Linked DNA regions of Homo sapiens. The protein of the gene in region 2 interacts with the protein of the main gene of each other region in a biochemical or structural test. Each region holds a gene or a part of one and is shown on either strand. Other genes may lie near its edges.

Region 1 (8,749 bases), on a different chromosome or scaffold from region 2:
AGCTTGGAGTGAGGGCAGACTTTGGGGTTCAGCCATCAGCTTCCTCCCTAGGAGCAGGAAAGAGATACAAAGAAGAATCTCACCCTAGGGAACAGTGGGCAAGAGAAACAGATGGGAGCTCACCAATCTGACAAGCCGGCACATCCAAGACCCCCCGCAGCAAGTCCCCTAGGGGGCTGTTCTCGTCCAAGTGCTGTGGGAAGCAAAGCCCACCAATGGTCAGCATGGCTACTGCATATGTGTGTGAGGGGATATCCGTGTGCATGGGACAAATACATCTTGTGGGTGTACCTGTGACTGCCAAATGTAGCACAGGTATATGGGAGACTACGTGCATGGCCACATGGGCTGTGCGACCAGCCCATGTGACAGGTGTCTGTGCATGCACGTGCGTGCTTGGGACTGTGTGATGGGGGCATGCCAAGGAGAATCTGGGAATAGGGAATGCTGTTACTCAGGTGGTTCTGGTCTTACCTCCCTCTCCGGCTCCAGGGCCACGGGGTTGACCATCTCTTCCACGTAGTTTGATGGGAACCACAGCTGCTTCTTCCCTCCGTAGTCCCCTCGCCACCTGTGGGAGCCACAGGGTGCTGACCTCCAGCAACCACCCCGAACTCCCATGAGGAGGGTATCCTTTGGTAGGGGTTCCCATGCCTAAGCCAGGGTGAGGCAGGCACTGCTGGTGCACACAGGAGACAAGCACATCACAAATGCATGTCTTTGGGGCCCCAGCTCCACTGGGGCCCTTGGACTCTGGGCCTACCACACCACTGGCTTACCAGCCTCCCTCTTGCTTCTCCACATTCTGGATGATGGCGCTCTTGATGAAGGTCAGCTCGTCCTCCCTCTGGGCCTTGTAGTCAAAGAGGGCTTTGACTGCACACTGCAGAGGTGAGAAGCACCAGTCAGAGCAGAAAGGCTCTCCCTGCCACTGCCAACCTGGGGCTTCATGTGCACACACACATGTGCTTGGGCTTCCCTGCCTGGGGTCAGGCCAGTGGGAGATGACACTGCCATCAACAGGCCCTAGTTATAGTTCTTGTTACTGCCCTGCAGGGAAGCTCCAGGACAGATATGATCAGAGAGGCAGGGCCTCTGCCAGTGAAATACCTCGGGACCCAGGTGGAACCTTAAGCCCCACCCTGGGCCACAGGGAGAACCTTGAATCCGCTCCCAGGAGTCAGGGCTGGCAGGCCAAGAAGGCAGGGTCTGCAGTGGCCCTGAGTGCCTCCCCGGGACCTGGAAGCATATGGGGCCTGGATGGGACCCTACCACTCATCTGTGAAGTGGAAAGAAAAACTTCCTTCCAGGTCCCCTGGCTGTGGAGGGGAGGGGGTGAGAAATAGGGCCCAGGCCTTTTTAGAGAAAAAGGCAAAACAAAAAAGAACCTGTGTAACAGGGCTCCATGAGGCCGGGGAATGAGTGGCCAGTGTGCCTCCCAGCTCCTACCCCGCTGCTGCCCAGGAAGGAAACAGGGGTCACCCACAGGAGCAGTTTAAAGGGTCACTGCTGACTTAAGGGGTAGGGGCTAGGGAGTGGGTCGGCCCTGGGAGACCTGCGGTCGCTCACCAACCACACATCTCTCACAACCTCTTGGGCCTCGGAAAACCACAACCACCACTTCTCCACAAAGACCACAGATGGCCCAGAACACAGAAATGAAGCCCCAAGCAGCTGGGGACCCTCCCCAGCTTCCTATGCCCAGAGGCCTGAGCTGTACCTTGAAAGTTGGCATAGGGTTTGCCTCTACATAGAAGCCAGGGTTGCGTCCCTCATACAGGGCCCCGTAGTCAGGCTCCTGGAAACAGGACACAATGGGATATGTTAATGCCCCAGAGCCCAGAGGTAGAAAGCAGCTACTGGTTTCTGGAGCAGCTTCCCTTTCCCCCAGTGCAGCAAACTTGCACCTGATCCACAGGGATCCTTCGACCTCAGTAGAGACGGCTTCAGAGGCCTCAGGCCCGGCCTCACTGTTCCCTTTCCTTTCTTCACATTCTTACATGTAAGGCCCAGCCCAGGATTCTAAAATCTCTCAGGTCCTAAATGCCCAAACTCCCAAGTATTTCTGAGCTATGTGCAGGTGGGCCCTTCACAGACTACCCATATTCAGTGCTTTAGTTCAGTGGCTTGTTGGTTCACTGCTGAGCCCAAAGTCAGGAAAAGCCTTCCCACTCCCCACATTCCTCCTGCCGCTCCTCTCCATCACTTGAGTCCCAGGTGCCAGTGGACAACAGGCCTCTCTCTCCCCAGCCAGCCCTGTCTACTGACGACAGCAGTCTCTCAACTGATCTTCTGGTCCTAGACCCCTTCCTTCTGTCCAGGGCCCTTATCACCAGCTGTGCTGCCATGGGTCCTGACTTTTTCCCTCACTGGTCTCACCTCCTGTGGCTCTGCCCTCCATACCATCCACCAGGCGGAGGCTCCACAACCACTCTTGGGTAGCCTCATCTCATCTGCCCTAGGACAGAGTCCAGGCCAAGCCCAGGTGGATGAGTTTCCACTGTGTGCACCTCTCCCAGTGTGAGCCCCAGAACCTCCTCACTCCACATCTTGACTCATGAGGAACCCTCTGCTTATGTGCCTGTCCCCATCCTTAAAGATGCTGCTCAGATGTCCCCTCCTGCAGACACCCTCCTGGTACCCACACTGTGGCTCCCAGCTGGAGTCAGGGGCCCTCCCACGAACTTCTACAACACACCAGGTCTTGCTGTTACACACATCCAGAGACTGGTAAGATTCTGGGTCTCTCCTGCCTCCCCTGCCATGCCCCGTCTACCACAGCCCCCTCACAGCTGTGCCAATCTTCTCCAGTGCCTCCTCGTTGATGGGATAGCGCAGCTTCATCTTGCGGTATAGCGGGTGTTTCTCATAGTAGCTGATGAGGTCAACAAGGCTGTCGAACTCCGAGTTCCCTAGCATCACTGTCTGGCCCTCTTGCTGGACACGGCAATGCTTGATCTTGCCCTCAGCCCTTCACAAGGACAAAACAGTCACACAGGGTCAGGGCAGCTCAGACCCAAGCAAGGCCCCACAACCCAGTGCCACACCCCTCACCGGAAAGAGATGGCATATGAGTTGGGTTCATTCCGCTTCCGCACCAGGAAGGCCCCATCACGAGGGACGCGCATTAGCATGTGCTCAGCCTGTGCTCTGGTCAGGCTCGCGTGGTACCACCTGAGAACAGGCAGAGTCAGGCCCGGCCAGCACCACCCATGGCCCTGCCCTGCCTTGTCCGCCCCCAGGCCCTTCCCTCACTCTTTGCTCTCGTGGGCGTTGGTCTGTGGGACAGGCTCTGAAAGTCGCATCTCAAACTCATTACAGCGCAGGGGCACCTGCTGGTAGTGCGTGATGAGGTCATAGAGGGAGTCAAAGACGAGGTTGTCTGTCAAGAAGAACTTGGGGGTCCCAGCATCTTGCCGGGAGTGGATACGGCAGTGCTGGACTTTCCCGTTCCGCCTGTGGAAGACACAGAGTGAGGGAGGCTGGGGAAAACAGGCCAGGGCCCCAAAGACCAAGTTCCACCCCAAATGAGGGTGGAACTCAAGGAGGGAGCCTCAAGGAGGGAGGCCAATCTCCTGAGGAGCTCAGGTGTGGGCAGTCACATGAACCAAAGGTGTGGGCTTCAAATGAACCGAAAAGGGAGGGGTATGGGGGGGGGGTGAGACAGAGAGTGTGTGTGTGTATGTAGGTGAAATTATGTTCCATGTAAAGCCTAATTATTGTCCTGGATCAAAGGCTCAAATGTTAACTGATTATCTCTGGGTGATGTGATGTCTGTGTACACACGCTGACTGAACATACGCATCTGCATGGGAAGTGTTACCAGAAAGAGAGCGTGTAGTCGCCCACGAAGGTCTCACTCTCTCGCACGAGGAAGGAGCCGTCAGGGGCTCCGGTCTCGATGCAGTACTCAGTAAGCAGGCGCTCAGCGATGTGACGCCCGTCACGCCCTGCCCCTAGCTTCCCATGGAACCACTTCTCATTGGAGTGCAGCTCTGTGCTGCTGCTGACCTGTCAGGGGAAGGCAACAGCAAAGATACTGTGACCCTGGCCCAGGCCTGACCTGGCCCAGCCCCCAGACCTGAGCTGGTTCCTCACCTCCTTGGGCTCCTCCTCATCCTCGTTGCCCTGGTCACTGCTGGTCTCCTCAGAGTAGTAGATCTTGCTGCTGGTCAGAACAAAGTAGTGGGGATACCATTCCTGGAACAGACCAAAGAGGGACTTGTGAGCCAGGGTCCTCACACCCACTGGCCTACCACCCCCAGCCTGGCCCAGTCCTCACGTGGTTCACAGGGTCCTCCAGGTAGAGGATGCCATTCTTGATAGAGTTGCTGATGTCGTTCTCAGAGTACATCATGGATGTAGGCACCTCCTCGTAGGCACTGCCCTCAGCCAGCTTCTTGTGCTGTAGGGGCAACCAGAACAGGGCAATGCAGACCCCAGTCCTCACCCCACCTCCTCACCCAGGTTTAGGCCCAACAGCTGAAGCCATGGCCTGGGCAAGGCACTGAGAAGTGTGGGGCTTCCGCAATAAGCCCGCCACCCCACCTTGATGAGGATCTTCCTCTTAAGCTGGTTGGGTGAGGGGAGCCCGTCGGCAGAGATCTCCACGGGCTTGGTGAGGAGTGTGTCCCCCAGCACCTTCTTGAAGTATTGGGCCATGTTTCTCTGCTGGGCAATGCTGCAGTGGTCCTCAATGGACAGGATGACTGGGTACCTGCGGGATGGGGGACAAGCACAGTGAAACAGATTCTGCAATTCTCTGGGTCTAAGTAGCCCCTCACAGTGAGCTGTTGGAAGCCAAGGGCCTGGGGGCTTCTTGTCTGTAAAAACTATCCCAGAAAAGAGGCAGGCCATAGCCACTGGTGGGGCAGAGAGGGGTTCTACAGCTGTGGCAGCAGTGGAAACCAAAGGGTGGCAACTGATGCAGTCCCGAGCTGGCCCAATTATGGAGGCTGCTCAGCAGTGCAAGAAAAATGTTTCACACCAAAGAGGCCAGGAGAGAGGAGAAGCCTCCAAAGTTAGCTGTTAGAGCCCTGGTGAGCTAAGGGAGACCAGTGACCACAGTTTAAGCAGTAAACAGAATTGAAGGAATGGGACACAGGGAACAGAGACAATCTTCTGGGCTGTGAGGGCAAAGGAGTTGGCAGGACACTGGCCTAAAGAAACCAGGGCATGTTTTCTGAAGATGAGAAGAGCATGTGTTCTACAGTCTAAAGGACCCATGAAGAAGAGAGTGGGCCCAACACGTAGGAAACAGAAAGTGTAACTTGGGAAGCAACAGCTCAAGCAGGGAGCAGGTGACGAGGAGAGGCCAAGAGGAAGGACAAAGATGAAAGGCTGAGGGAGAGGGGACAGGGCATTTGAGGAGTCTTTCTGCCCTCTGTCCCTCTAGAACGAGAGACCTGGAGCCAAGTTAACCCCTGGGTCATCCAGCCTCCGACTCACTCTGAGGCCACAAAGGCATGCTCCTTGATGGTGTGCAGGACATCTGAGAACTTGATCTTGGTGGTAAGGGTGTGCCCATGGTAAATAACTGGCATCCCATCCGGGCCGTCCCAGCAGTCCACTGGGGAGCAACATCACCATGGTCAAGCGGGCAGGCCTCCCATCTTCCCTCCCCCAGCCCTGGACCCCACGCACACTCAATGCAGCGACAGCCCATCCGCAGGCAGCGAGCATAGGCTTCCAAGGAGGACTCACTGGAGAACTGGTCCCCGGTCAGGTACCTGGATAGGCAAGGAGAGGCAGGTAGGTATGGTCAGATGGGCCCTCCTGGGGAAGAAGCTGGGTGGGCCTGAAGGAGCCACACTCACGTGTTGTGCGAGGAGGAGATCCAGTAGTGGGAAAGAGGGTTGTTCATGGTGTCCGGGCATACTGCATCCAGCTGCGAGTTCCACACACTGTTCTCTTTGGAGAACAGGAAGGTGACAAACTGTCCAGAAACATGTGGAAGGGAAGAGACAGTGAGTCCCTGCCCTGTCCAACCCAAGATGGTAGGTTGGGGGTAGGAGAGAGAGTGCTCTGTCCCAACTGGGGGTGGGCAAGGTGCACAGTAGGTAGAAACAAGGTGGCATCCCTAAGGAGCGTCTAGCTCCTGGAGCCCGGGTGGGGTCCTGGTCACCCCTACTCATTCTCTTGACAAAAAATGGGTGAAACATCGGGCTCACCTCATCCAGGAAGAAGTATGGCTCCTCGATCTCTCGTAAGGGGTCTCGGAGGAAGCTGAGCATGAACTCCTGCACCTGGAGGCGATCAACAGCCCACAGCTCCTGATGGGGTAGGGAGGGCAGGGGATGAGAGAAGCCTCCAGTCAGGGATGAGCCCAGCCCCCCACAACCTACCAGCCTGGGCCAATGTCAGCCCAGCCATACCCCCTGGTAGTCAAGAAGGAACTGCTGGAACTCAGGAAGGGACACTCGGCAAAGCTCCGGCCGCTCCCCAGCCCTGCAGGGAGAGAAGGTAAGCTAGCTAGTATGGTCAACAGACAACAAGGTGCCCCACGGAAGGCAGAACCCAACTCCCAGCCAGCACAGCTTCCCAGAATGGTCCAGCATGGTTCCCTACTCCCACTGCCTCCCACCTGGATCAAGAATCGCCCAGTGGAGAGATGAAGGGGGCCCAGGGAAAACCCCACCTCCCCACTCCAAACCAAACCTCAGAGTACTGGCTTCCAAGAAGGGGAGGTCCATCTGCAGGAAACAGAACCTGGTCAGGGCAAGACCCCTGGGAGGCCATGTGGGAAATGGGCTAGTAAGAAGGCAGGCTAGAGCAGCAGATGGGGGCAGGCCTCAAGAGGAGAAGAACTGGAGAAATGGCACCCAAAAGCCCCTAAGCAGGGCAGCAGGGCTGAGGCAGGCAGAGCTGGGGTGTGGGGTGGAAGAGCAGGGGCAGGGGTTGAGGGAGGGCAGGTGGCTCATGCACCGTCTTCTGGGCGCTGTACATGAGGCTGCGGTACAGCTGAGCAAACTGCCCGTAGGTGATGTCCCCGCTGCGCTGCTCCAGGTCCTGCATGGTATAGAGCAGGAGTGCCAGTCAGGCAGTCAGGCCCCCAGCTGAAGGGCTCTTGGCTTCCCCTGCCCCCATCTACAGACAGCCCTGGGTGGCACTTACCGTCAGCCGCTCTCGGAGGAAGCGCATGTTGGGGACCCGGTAGTTGACCTGGGACAGCATGTTCTTCAGGTCCTTGGCTGATATACTGAGAAAACAGGGACATCCCCAGTGGTCTCATCCAGCTTCTCATGACCTCTGACCTGTGGGTCGAGCCCACCTGGGGCTGGACAGGTAAACAACACTATTCTGGGAACCTGGAGGCCTGAGGGCAAGACTGGATCAGAACCCATGGGGTGAGGTTAGTCCCTTCCTTTCTTTGGACCTCAGTTCCTCATCTGAGCAAAAAAAAAAAAAAAAAAAACAAAAACAAAACAAACAAAAAAAACCTGTAATTCTGGCAAGGAAGATGTGAACAGATTCAGTAAAGTGGGTCAGGCATGGGAGGAAGAAAAACCACACTCCAGGCCTCCCCTCCTACCGGCACTGCTGAGGCCTGTGCCAAGGTGGCAGTCAGCCTATCCAAGACAGAAGGCAGGGCTCACTCACAACTTCCCTGTTGGGGGCAGCATGGCAGCAGGTCCCTACCTGCTGCCCACTGGGATGCTGGGAGTTTGGTCCTCAGAACCCACTAACCCATGAGAGGGAGGAAGGAGGAGGTGCATGCTCCACCAAATACAATGACTGGCAACTGGGCACCTCCTGGGGCTAGACAGGGCCTGGCTCCAGGAAAGAAACTGAGAGAACAAGCGCCCCTGCTCTCCAGGGGTGTCCTGCCCAGGATGTGAGGCTGGGGACACTGCTGGACCTGGCAACAGGATGGACAAGAAGGGGGAAGGGGGGGGCTTTCTCTCCTGGAAGGTGGTGTCAAGGAGGGGAGGGGAGGGTGGGACCACCTCCTCTGGGCCCCAAGAGCCTGGGAGGAGGCACCAAAATTCCCCGAGGGGGCTGAGCGCCACACTGAGTGGATCAAGCACTGCGGAGGGAGGGCTGGCTCTATATAGGCGCCCCCTCCTCTGATCCTCAGTCACCCAGGAGGTAGGTGCTATCAGGGTCCTTGTTTTCCAGTGAGGAAACAGAGGCCTTCTGGTTGCAACTGCCTGCATCACCGATCTTGCCCTCTGTGGTCTCTTTCCCATCAGCATACGAACAGCTTGTTACTTCTTCCACCAAAAACACCTGTCTTGCCCCTGCTTAGCTCTCCAGCTACTGCCCTCTTCTTTGCTCCCCTCCATAGCAAAACTCCTTGCAAGAGTCATCTTGCTCCCTCTCATTCCCTTGAGCCCCTCACCGCTAGGGTGACACCGCTCTTCTCACCATGTTAAATCCAAGGGTCAACGGTCAGATTTCACCACTGTCTTCTTCCTTGGGCTGCCAGAACTCAACACTCTGGGGGTTCTCCTCTTACCGCACTAGTTGTCCCTGACCCCTCCAATCTCTAATATGGGGGTGGTCTGGGATCAGCCACTGGACCCTGCCCTTTTCTTGGTCTGCTTGCCCCCTAGGTGATCTCACCCAGCCCTGTGGCTTTCAGTGTTATCTACATACTCCCAAGTTAAAATCTGTAGCCCCTACTGTGTATGTACCTAAACTCACTCTAACCACCTGCCTACTCAACATCTCTCCCTGGACAGCTAATAGGCATCAGAAAACTTAACATGCCTCGAACTGAACCCAAGCTTCCCTCCAAATGGGCTAG
Region 2 (6,844 bases):
GAGGGGAGGGAGTCCTTTATTGAGTGTTGCGAGGGGCACACAGGCGAGGCCTCCCTCAGGTTCCCTGGAGTTGACCCAGGGTTGGGGAATTGCTTAAGGAGCTACAAATGGGTCTCCAGTGGGATTGATGGGGGACTTGAAGGCGGGGGACCCCTTTGGAGGAACTCCTGACTTCTGCCTATGTTCTCAGTGTACCATTTATCTGTTGATTTCTTACCAGGTGCCTTTGAGATAGAGATAAATGGACAGCTGGTGTTCTCCAAGCTGGAGAATGGGGGCTTTCCCTATGAGAAAGATGTGAGTATTTACAGCGTTGGGAGGACCTCTTGGTCACCCTACCCCAACAGTGCATCATCCTGTCATTCCACTCCTCTAGCTCATTGAGGCCATCCGAAGAGCCAGTAATGGAGAAACCCTAGAAAAGATCACCAACAGCCGTCCTCCCTGCGTCATCCTGTGACTGCACAGGACTCTGGGTTCCTGCTCTGTTCTGGGGTCCAAACCTTGGTCTCCCTTTGGTCCTGCTGGGAGCTCCCCCTGCCTCTTTCCCCTACTTAGCTCCTTAGCAAAGAGACCCTGGCCTCCACTTTGCCCTTTGGGTACAAAGAAGGAATAGAAGATTCCGTGGCCTTGGGGGCAGGAGAGAGACACTCTCCATGAACACTTCTCCAGCCACCTCATACCCCCTTCCCAGGGTAAGTGCCCACGAAAGCCCAGTCCACTCTTCGCCTCGGTAATACCTGTCTGATGCCACAGATTTTATTTATTCTCCCCTAACCCAGGGCAATGTCAGCTATTGGCAGTAAAGTGGCGCTACAAACACTAATGCTAACTAGTGTGTGTTTTTATACGTCCAGTCTGGGAATGTGGGGGGCACAGAAGTCCGGTCAGCCCAGCCTTTGCACCGCCAGGGTGGCTGTGCTGGCTGGGTGGGCTTTCTGGACAGCTACTCCTTAGGTCAGTGAGCTCCTCTGGCATAGCCAAGGCAAGGAAAATGAGTCCCACAGTAGACCCTGCCTCGTCTTTCCCCCACCCTACCCACCACTCTCCTCACTCACAAGGAGGAAATAACCCCATTCTGGTGAGTGGCCTTAGGAATTAGTTCGTTCTAAATAAGAATGATCTGGTCGTCAAAGGGCTCTCAGATCTGAATCCAGCTTCCCGATCTCCCCCAACCCTGAAGCTGGAGAACTGGATGTCTGGCTCCTCATCCAAGCTTTCTGAAGATTCCCAGCCACTCCCTCCAGGAAAAGAGGAATTGAGTGTAAGGTGAGCAGGAAGGGATGGCACAGAGCCACCCCCAGACATAGGCCGGTGCCTAGCTGTTTTCCAAAATATATTTGCAAATGGACAAAGTGGGTGTGGAGAAGGACCCCCCACACTTGCCTCCCCATACAACACCCATTCTCCCCCTGGGTCTTTATTTCATCTTTAAAAAAACAAAACAAAAAAAGTAAAAACTAAACAGAAAAGCACTCTGTACAAAGCCTGGATACTGACACCATTGCTGTTCCTTCCTCATGGGGGGCAGTACTAGGTTTCAGGGACAGTCTCTGAATGGGTCGCTTTTGTTCTTAGACACTCCCTTAGGGCCGCTTCCCCTCTCAGGCCAGCTTCCCTAAGGCTTTCAGTACCCAGGATCTGGAAGGAAAGGGCCAAGCTGGGCTGTGGCATCCACTGGACCCTAGAGTCTCATTGGGCAGGGCCTCAGAATCCACAAAGACTCCCCAGTGCTGTTCCTCTTCCAACGAGGCTGGACCCCTTCCAGCCATCTGGGAACTCAAGCAGGAAGGAAGGTTCCTTAGGACAGGTTCCTGGCATGGCAGGTTCCCCTGGAAGTGGTCGGAGGGCCCTCCCACCTCTTGATGCCAGCAGAAGTCAGGCCTTCCCTGCTCCCTGAGGACACATCAGGGCTTCTGCGGACTTGGCCTTCTGGTTCACACTGGCACGTCCAGACCCAGGTACTCTGGGTTCTCTGCCGTAGGTGTCCCTTTGAAGGTGCTGGGTGGAGCCCCCCGCTCTGGTGGGTCCTGGTCCCAGTAATAGAGGTTGTCGAAGGCTGGGCTGAAGGCAGGAGGAGGGTGGGGCTGAGGGGCAGCTCCTCCCTGGGGTGTCAAGTACTCGGGGTTCTCCACGGCACCCCCAAAGGCAAAAACGTCTTTGACGACCCCATTCTTCCCTGGGGAGAGAGTCTTGGGCCTTTCCAGAGTGGCACCAGCAGGTCGGGCAGCAGGCAGAGGGCCCTCTCGGGGCGAAGGGGGCTGGGGCCGAACATCTGGCTGGTTCACATATTCTGAAAGGTCAAGAGAAGGTGACCCATTAGGGGAAGGAACCCCGGTGTCTCTGCCACTCCCTCTGCCCCCACAGTGGACCCTGGGCTGAAGGTCCCACCTCCCCTGCCCATCAGTCTCTCTGCTTAGACTGGACTCCATACCAGGCTGGGGGCTGCAGGTCAGGGGGGCAACGTAGCCATCAGTCTCAGAGGGCAGGGGTACTGTGGGGTCCTCACTGTACCGCTGTAGAGGGCTGGGGTCATGTGTGGGGAGGCTTTGCAGCCCCTTGGCTGCCCCCATTCCCAGGTCACCATCAAATACATCGGAGCCAGCCCCTTCGGAGGGTGCCAGTGGAGACCTGGGGGCCTCCTCTTCAGAGGGCTCCAGCCCTAGTGTCAGGTCCCCACCGCCACTCTGGGGACAAGAAAGAAAGTCATGATGGGGGTCACTCACGGATCTGGGATGGGGACTCCATGGAAGGTGACAGGGTCACAGGAGAAAAACAGAGGTCACCTTTGGGGTATGACACAGTCACCGTGGAGAGAATGGGGTCACAGGGGTTGGAAGGCAGTAAGAATTTTTTGTAGGGATAATGGGGTTTCCTTGAGAGGTGACAGTTGAGGGAACATCAGAGAAAGGGACCCTAGTCCACCGGGGTTGGGGGAGGTAAGCAGACAGCCACACAGTGTGACCGAGGGCACTGACCCTGGTAGATGAGCTGCGGTGCCTGTGGTGGACCATGCCCCCAGCGCCCGGGGCAGGGTCTGGACAGAAGAAGCCCTGCTGGGGTACCAGATACTCCTCAGCATCCACCAGGTCCCCCATGTCATCGTCCTCCAGCAGTGAGCGGTAGAAGGTGCTGTCCAAGGGACTGGCTGGGCCCAAGTCCTCATTCTGTGGAGGAAGGAGAGGCAGGATGGTGGCCCCTCCCCAGCCCAGCATGCAGCCTTCCGTGAGGGGCCTGGCATACTGGACTCATCTCTCCTTCCCACCCTCTGCAGGAGGGTGCTCTTAGCCACAGGCAGGGATGGGGCACAGAGGCCCAGTACCTGGATGACCACAAAGCGCTGGGGGTCCCTGGCCATGCGGGAGAATTCAGACACCAACTCCCGGAATCTTGGCCGACATTCAGAGTCAATCATCCAACCTGGGGCAGGAGGGAGGTCAGCATGCTAGTCCCAGGCCCTGTGTGCTTGCTGCCTCTCCCCTCCCACTCCCCCTCCAGTCTGGTCTAGACAGTCCCAAGGGACAGCCCAAAGCCCTCAGGTGGTAGAGAAGTAGCACCAGACTCTGGGGTCTTCAGCCAGAACCTTTGGCATCTCTTCTAGTTTCCCTTTTAATTTTTTTTTTCTTTTTGTTTGCTTTTTTATTTTTTTGAGATGAGGTTTCGCTCTGTCACCCAGGCTGGATTTCAGTGGTGCAATCATAGCTTACTGCAACCTTAAACTAGGCTCAAGTGATCTTCCTGCCTCAGCCTCTCCTGAGTAGCTGGGACTACTGGCACACACCACCACACCCAGATAATTTTTTTATTTTTTGTAGAGATAGGATCTCACTATGTTGCCCAGGCTGGTCTTGAACTCCTGGCTTCAAGGGATCCTCCCACCTCAGCCTCCAAAAGTACTGGGATTACAGGCATGAGCCACTGTGCCCAGCTTAATTTTGTACAAGAGTGTTCCTCAAGAGTGGCTTTGGACTTTGACTGTAAAAGGGATACAAGAAGGTTTTGAGGCTCCTAACATACTAGGGCTCCTGGGTCTACATACATCCTGGTCCCCTTTCATGCCCCTTGTGGGCTCCTCCACCCAGGACCTCCCACCCTCCTCCAGGCAGCCAGCACAGCTCAGCCACGCACATTTGACCATGATCATGTAGACATCAATGGTGCAGATGGGGGGCTGGGGCAGCCGCTCCCCCTTTTCCAGCAGGTCAGGGATCTCCCGGGCTGGGATCCCATCGTAAGGTTTGGCCCCAAAAGTCATCAGCTCCCACACAGTCACACCTAAGGCAGAGACAGGGTCAGGAGTGGGAGGGCCAGAGGGAGCTTTAGTGTACTGAGCCAGAGGTTCTGCTCAGGAGTCTAGCATCATGGCAGGTAGCAGGGGGAGATGTGATGCCAGGAGACAGACCCTACCCGGTCTTTCCCTAATCCTGGGAAGTGCACAGACCCTGCAAGGTGGGGCACAGGCAGCCCCTTCCCTCCCTTCACATGCTGAGGTGGCCCCGTAATTCTCCCCATCCCAGCTCTCATCCTCCCTCCAGCCATGGCTCCTCACCCACCCCTCCCAACACCCCCCATCACACACCATAACTCCACACATCACTCTGGTGGGTGAACCGCCGGCGGAGAATGGACTCCAGCGCCATCCACTTGATGGGCACCTGGGAGGGCAGAAGAGGAAGTCCTCCAACTGTGTGTTGTGGGGAGGTGGCCACTCAGAGTTCTCCCATGGGCTAGACACCACTCCACCCAGCCTCCTCTGCTCCTTGGTCCTTCACCTAACCTTGCCCCCATCTGCATGGTACTCTGTCTCGTCAATGTCCAGCAGCCGAGCCAGCCCGAAGTCTGTAATTTTGACATGGTTGGGACTCTTGACCAGCACGTTCCGAGCGGCCAAGTCCCTGTGTACGAGCCGCACATCCTCCAGGTAGCTCATCCCCTGGAATGGGAAGCACCCATGTAGACCTTCTGGGAGGGCCTGGGCCTGGCCACATGCCCAGCAAGAGTCCCCATCCTAGCCCCTTGTGGACATAGGGGTTTGCTCCGGAGAGACCTGCAAAGAGCCCAGGTGCATACCTTGGCAATCTGCATACACCAGTTCAGCAGGTCCTGGGAGCCCAGGCGTCCGCGGTTTTCCCGGACATGGTCTAAGAGGCAGCCATAGGGCATAAGCTGTGTCACCAGCTGCACCGTGGATGTCAGGCAGATGCCCAGAAGGCGGGAGACATATGGGGAGCCCACACCAGCCATCACGTATGCTTCCTGGGGACAAGGGTACGCTGAGAGGGTATGGGAGACCACACACCCCCAAACACCACACAGCCTCCCAACCATCACAAACCACAGCCATGGCCCACAGCCTGTGAAGGCTCAAAGTACCAGCCTGGACAACATGGTGAAACCCTGTCTCTACTAAAAATACAAAGATTAGGCCGGGCACGGTGGCTCACACCTGTAATCCCAGCACTTTGGGAGGCCGAGGCGGGCGGATCATGAGGTCAGGAGTTTGACACCAACCTGGCCAACATGGTGAAATCCCATCTCTACTAAAAATACAAAAATTAGCCGGGCGTGGTGGCTCGCGCCTGTAATCCCAGCTACTCAGGAGACTGAGGGAGAAGAATCGCTTTAACCTGGGAGGCTGAGCTGAGACCGCACCATTTCACTCTAGCCTGGGTGACAGAGCGAGACTCTGTCTCAAAAAAAAAAAAAAAATTAGCGGGCGCTTGTAATCCCAGCTACTCAGGAGCCTGAGGCATGAAAATCGCTTGAGTCCAGGAGGTGGAGGTTGCAGTGAGCCGAGATAACGCCACTGCACTCCAGCCTGGGTGACAGAGCAAGACTCCGTCTCCAAAAAAATAGTCTAGGTTTGCGGGAGTCATATCTCCCCAAACCCCAATGAAGAGAGACCAGAGCCCAGACCTGCAGCCATGGGGTCCTTCCTGTCCTCCTAGCAGGAGAGGGTGGAGGGGCTTACGTCTAAGATTTCTTTGTTGGCTTTGGGGGATGTGTTTTCCCTCAACACTTTGATGGCCACTGGAATTTTCACATTCTCCCCATCAGGGATCCAGATGCCCTGGGCAGAAAGAGGAGGATATGAGTGAGAAGAGCGTGGGCTGGATCCTACCTGCCTTCCAGGAGATCATTACTTGTCCTCCAAACATCCTTCACCACCCTAGGGCTTGGCCCCGCTCCCTTCTCCGCTGTAACTGCCCTCCCCCAAACACTGCCTCCAGCTCTTGCCCCTCCCATCAGAACTGCCGACCACACCCCTCCAGGCACCGCCCCCATCCTCTGGGGCCGCCCACCCCAGGACCTGGCCCTGACCTTGTAGACTGTGCCAAAAGCGCCAGATCCAAGCACCTTCACCTTCCTCAGCTCCGTCTCTTTCAGGATCCGCATCTGCGCCTGGTTGGGCATCGCTCCGCTAGGTGTCAGCGGCTCCACCAGCTGGGGTGAGGGGGTGGTGGGTCAGTGCCGGGGGCCGGTGCAGACCCCACGCGGGCTGGGAGGACTTCACCCCGCCTCACCTCCGTTTCCTGCAGCAGTCTCCGCATCGTGTACTTCCGGATCTTCTGCTGCCGTCGCTTGATGAGGATCCCAAAGACCACCCCCAAGACCACGACCAGCAGAATGCCAACCACCGCAGAGATGATGGACGTCAGAGGGCTGGGGGCGGAAGCCAGGGTCAGGGATTGAGGGCTAGTTTGGGGTGGGAGGGACAAAGGGGGCCCACGGGGGACATGAAGGTGTTTGGCATTCGGAAAGGGAAGTCGGAAGGGTGACCCACAGGCTTGGACCCTCTCCTACTCTAAAACCTGCCTTGGCTCCCCGCTGCCTCCACAATAAA
Region 3 (4,648 bases), on a different chromosome or scaffold from region 2:
ATAACACACAATCAGGCTTGTGCTGGACACAGGCGTAGCTTTTTCATGTCTATTGTCCTTTTGAACAAACTTGAAAATCTTTCCTACTACCATAGCTGCAATCTACTTTTCAACAGAAGACAAGAACTGGGGTGTGGTTTTTTTCCTTCTTCAGCTGCTACACATGTACTTCTTGACTAGTGTCTCCTATTCCACCACCTAGCTTGCCTGAAAATTTCTTTATGCAAAACCATTTGTTTGTCAGCCATTGAGACATTGAGATCACAGACAGGTGTTTGAAATTTCTTATTTGTTTATTTTGAGACAGAGTCTCACTCTGTGGCCCAGGCCAGAGTGCAGTGGCATGATCTTGGCTCACTACAACCTCCGCCTCCCAGGTTCAAGTGATTCTCATGCCTCAGCCTCCTGAGTAGTAGCTGAAATTACAGGCGAGTGCCACCATGCCCAGTTAATTTTTTCTAGTTTTAGTAGAGATGGGGTTTCCCTGTGTTGACCAGGTTGGTCTTGAACTCCTGGCCTCAAGTGATCCACCTGCTTCGGCCTGCCAAACTACTGTGATTATAGGTGTAAGCCACCATGCCCAGCCTCTTAAAGACTTTTCTAATCTCATCAAGAATACCACTTGCAGAGGTGGGCTTTAGAGAAGCAGGTGGGATCACCCTCAGTGGACTCTTCTGCAAGATGAGGGAAAAGACTGGCATGTTGGATTGGGTAGTTCTCCCAGCTTTGGGGAGGAGTAGAGCCCTTAGCAGAGAATGGCCTATCTCTCAGAAATTCTCCCAGCCTCTGCTCCAAGAAATCCACCACGCAGTACTGTATGTCAACCAACTGAGGATTAGTATAATCTTAACAGCTATGCTATTACCTAGCTGGAGTAGGACACTTGGAGGAGGAGAGGAAGAATGAGGCATAAGAGGTTGTTATAGAGCCAGGGTTGCTGTGGTAGCAGTGGGAATTAATGAGGATTTACTTAAATAGAAAATAATTCCGTGTAACACTGAGGAAAACTGAAGCTAGAGAGCTGATGCCACATACTACAAACAGATGCTTTGCTTTACCAAAAAATTACCCCAGTTTCCCAGTTTAAATTGTGAGTCATCCTTTCTAGTACATTCAAAATGATTCAATGGTTTTCCTAAAAGGAGAAAAAAAACCTTTCCATACAAAATTTCCCAAACCCCTATATACCTGAATGTAAAAAATGCATATAAATTTTATTAGGTTTCTATGGCCGCCATAATAAACTGGGTGGCTTAAAAAGCCAGAAATTTATTGTCTTCAAGTACTGGACACTCAAAGTCCAAAATCAAGGTGCCACCAGGGCCATGCTCCCTCTAAAACCCGGAGGGAAGTCTGTTCTTGCCTCTTCCTAGCTTCTGATGGTTTGCAGGCAATCTTTGGTGCTCCCAGGCCTACAGATGCATCACTCCAGTCCCTCATCTTCATGTCGTAATCTTTTTTTTCAATAGAAACCATGCTACTTTATTAAAATGCCAAGTTTTAGTTCACATGTATATTTTTGTCTCCCCACCATTTCCATGTTCTGACCACTGCTACTACTATGTCCTATCATAACATTCCATACATATTTAAAACCAAGCAAAGGGTGAAGTTCCATCTTTAATAATGAAACAGGCATTTTGGACAACACATTCTTGGCAATGGAACCTGGACAACATTTATTAAACACAGTAGGGAAAGTTCTCACTCTGCATTATAGAAAGGACAGCCAGATATTGACTGTTAGAGAAATGAAATAAGATGGAAAAATGTTAACAAATTGTTTAAACTATTTTCTAAAGAGACTTCCTCCACTGCCAGGATCTTGAATAGTCTCCTGGTCAGTTGTCCGGAAGCAATTCTTCACATAATTGATGAACTTGGCTTCCACTTTGGGAAGAGAACCACCTTTTTCTATACTTGCTTGCATTTTTGATTTAATGTCTTCTACAGAACTAGGCCCTTTTGGTGTTTTACGAGTTTTTTCCTGTTTTTTGAAGGATTCTTGTCCTTTTAATCTTGGTGTTGATGATGGGTTTGAGTGTTTTCTATTCTGATTTGACTTTTGTGCATTTTTGGCTGGAGTATGTAGATTTCTTCAATGGTGCTTTTTCTTCAGTTTCCTCATCATCAAAATCATCATCATCATCATCATCATCATCATCATCATCTTCATCAGCAGCAAGTTTTACTTTTATTCTCTGGAATCTTGCTACCACCTCCAGGGACAGATCACTTTCCAGATATCCTTAAGAGTTTCACATCCTCCTCCTCTTCATCTTCTGACTCTGCATCTTCCTCCACAGCTACTAAATGCTGTCCACTAATATGCACTGGCCCTGAACCACACTTCAACCATAAAAGCACTGGTGGTGTTATTTCAAAGACCCCAAGGGAAACTGTTGGCTGTACAGACATTTTCAAAGGTGCCAGTGTTATTTAATTGGACTGCCTTCATAATTCATTGCCTCTGCTTCAACAATGTGCAGTTCATCCTTTGCACCAGCCCCTAAACTGACCGTTCTTAAGGATAACTGGTGCTCATTTTCATCATTATCCACCTTAAAGTGATCATCTTTGTCGGCCTTTAGTTCACAACTGAAAAGATAGTTCTGGGCCTCAGGGGGCTCACGTCCATGTCCATCGAATCTTCCATCAGGTGGCGGCACACACTTAGGTGGGAGAGAAAGCAGACGGAGATAAACGACCACTGCTCAAGAGAACAGCCATACAGGATGGAATCACGCCAGTAGTATTGTTCCTGTGTGTCTCTTCATATAGTCTTCTCTCTGTGCCTGCATCCAAATTTCCTAATTTTATAAGGACACCAGCCATTGTATTAAGGCCCACCCTACTGACCTCATCTTACCTTGACTATATCTGTAAAGACCTCATTCCCAAATAAGGTCACATTCTGAGATATGTGGCCTTATGGATTAGGACTTCAACATATCTTTTTGAGGGGACCACAGTTCAATCTGTAACATAGGTGGCAATTATGAAAGTTTATGACATTTAAATATACAATTATCTTTAGAAGTGAGTCATGAGTTACCCTGAAATTATTACCTTCTGGCCTTTCAACATACTTTCATAGATTGCTATCTTATGCAGTGGCCAAGTGTGTTCCCCATTTAATTATTAGACTTAATTAGCTGCTTTATCACTTCACTGCTGTCTGAAGTACACAGTAGAAATATATGACAAAGTATGATACATTTCTGGGATGATCTAAGACCTTGGACCTGATTCTCCACGATGGTATCTCTTTTATTCCTTGGTGTTCACCAATGTCTGCTTTTCTGCTCTTGTTTTGTGGGATATTTCTCTAGGAACTGGCTTTTAGTCTAGCTTTGCTGTCATTCCACTTTGAAACTTGATATGGTTTGGCTGTGTCCTCACCCAAATCTCATCTTGAATTGTAGCTCCCATAATCCCCACGTGCCATGGGAGGGACCTGGTGGGAGGTAACTGAATCACGCGGGCAGGTTTTCCCATGTTGTTGTGATAGTGAGTAAGTCTCATGAGATCTGATGGTTTTATAAAGGGCAGTTCCCCTGCACATGCTCTCTTGCCTGCCACCATGTAAAACATGCCTTTGCTTCTTCTTTGCCTTCTGCCATGATTGTGAGGCCTCCCCAACCATGTGGAACTGTGAGTCCATTAAACCTCTTTTTTTTTTTTTTTTTTTATGTAAATCACCCAGTCTTGAGTATGTCTTTATTAGCAGCGTGATAATGGACTAATACAAACCTCATATCAAGTTTAGGTTCTATTTGATAGACATGTAGATCAAAGAGGGTATAATTATCTTTAGTAAGCAAAACTAACAGCATAATCCTAGACAAGAACTTATAGAAAGTTCATATCCATATATATATATATCCCATGGTTGAGAGTGCTCACAAAAAGGAACCATTACATCCTTCTTGCCTATACTTACAGATATCATACATTACCTTTAATACCTTATTTTCTACAAATTAAAATTTTAACCAAGACTTAATTGTCAAGCATTGGCAGTGGAGAGCCCAGCTACATTAGTGTACCAATGATCATTGTGGAGGTTTAAATTTCCAGCCACTTTGTTTTATGCAAGAGCATTATTTTCTTATTTTGATAATATACTTTACACTTATTTTTAAAAATAAAAATATTTATTTGGAAAATATTAGTAGCATGATAACTCAACCTCACCAGATATTAACAGTTCATCAGGTCAGGCAATAGAACAAGTCCACATGAGCTTCTTAAAAAGAAATGGATGACCACTTCAATAGCTGACTCCATCTTCCATTTTATTACTGGATGATTCATAATCCAAAATATGAAGTTTTGGGACTTTTTCTCAAAAGGAGAAACTTTGGGAAAGTGTCTGAAGCAATGGTATTGATCTTTTTTTTCCCCCTTTATGAAACTTTAACTGCATACTTCAGTCTGGTGGAATCTTTTGTGTTATTCTGACTGTCAATAAGAACCAAAGGACTATGTTGATGATTCCTGATGATTTCAGCAACACTTCCAAAGTACTAGAGGAAGAAAACATAGATGAATTATACTTTGGCATTTGTGTTAAATTTGAGCTCCACTCCTCCCATCTTCTCTCATTCTCAAGTTAGTAAAAGTTATTACACCCCAGCTGACATTC

Evidence for each region.
Region 1: the proteins of ERBB2 (region 2) and PLCG1 form a complex in vitro, tested with the Homo sapiens proteins (2 studies listed by BioGRID and IntAct, with this or other methods).
Region 3: the proteins of ERBB2 (region 2) and BLNK form a complex in vitro, tested with the Homo sapiens proteins (2 studies listed by BioGRID and IntAct, with this or other methods).

Annotation. Positions count from the first base shown.
Region 1 is NC_000020.11:41,160,901-41,169,649, reverse strand, and holds part of PLCG1 (1-phosphatidylinositol 4,5-bisphosphate phosphodiesterase gamma-1), read right to left. Parts: intron 7,199-8,749; coding exon 7,114-7,198; intron 7,009-7,113; coding exon 6,925-7,008; intron 6,693-6,924; coding exon 6,658-6,692; intron 6,448-6,657; coding exon 6,375-6,447; intron 6,273-6,374; coding exon 6,171-6,272; intron 5,936-6,170; coding exon 5,817-5,935; intron 5,730-5,816; coding exon 5,644-5,729; intron 5,570-5,643; coding exon 5,449-5,569; intron 4,718-5,448; coding exon 4,549-4,717; intron 4,406-4,548; coding exon 4,283-4,405; intron 4,201-4,282; coding exon 4,099-4,200; intron 4,012-4,098; coding exon 3,824-4,011; intron 3,457-3,823; coding exon 3,256-3,456; intron 3,175-3,255; coding exon 3,055-3,174; intron 2,972-3,054; coding exon 2,791-2,971; intron 1,799-2,790; coding exon 1,721-1,798; intron 884-1,720; coding exon 780-883; intron 628-779; exon of another isoform or gene 572-627; coding exon 475-571; intron 194-474; coding exon 124-193; intron 1-123. UniProt on the Homo sapiens protein: Mediates the production of the second messenger molecules diacylglycerol (DAG) and inositol 1,4,5-trisphosphate (IP3). Plays an important role in the regulation of intracellular signaling cascades.
Region 2 is NC_000017.11:39,723,138-39,729,981, reverse strand, and holds the end of ERBB2 (receptor tyrosine-protein kinase erbB-2 isoform a precursor), read right to left. Parts: intron 6,664-6,844; coding exon 6,525-6,663; intron 6,445-6,524; coding exon 6,322-6,444; intron 6,071-6,321; coding exon 5,972-6,070; intron 5,257-5,971; coding exon 5,071-5,256; intron 4,934-5,070; coding exon 4,778-4,933; intron 4,656-4,777; coding exon 4,580-4,655; intron 4,276-4,579; coding exon 4,129-4,275; intron 3,488-4,128; exon of another isoform or gene 3,421-3,487; coding exon 3,323-3,420; intron 3,168-3,322; coding exon 2,979-3,167; intron 2,688-2,978; coding exon 2,435-2,687; intron 2,294-2,434; coding exon 1,938-2,293; 3' UTR 1,324-1,937; downstream 1-1,323. Other genes in the region: MIEN1 (migration and invasion enhancer 1), read left to right, coding at 221-384. UniProt on the Homo sapiens protein: Protein tyrosine kinase that is part of several cell surface receptor complexes, but that apparently needs a coreceptor for ligand binding. Essential component of a neuregulin-receptor complex, although neuregulins do not interact with it alone.
Region 3 is NC_000010.11:96,187,564-96,192,211, forward strand, and holds the end of BLNK (B-cell linker protein), read right to left. Parts: intron 4,530-4,648; coding exon 4,410-4,529; 3' UTR 1,608-4,409; downstream 1-1,607. UniProt on the Homo sapiens protein: Functions as a central linker protein, downstream of the B-cell receptor (BCR), bridging the SYK kinase to a multitude of signaling pathways and regulating biological outcomes of B-cell function and development.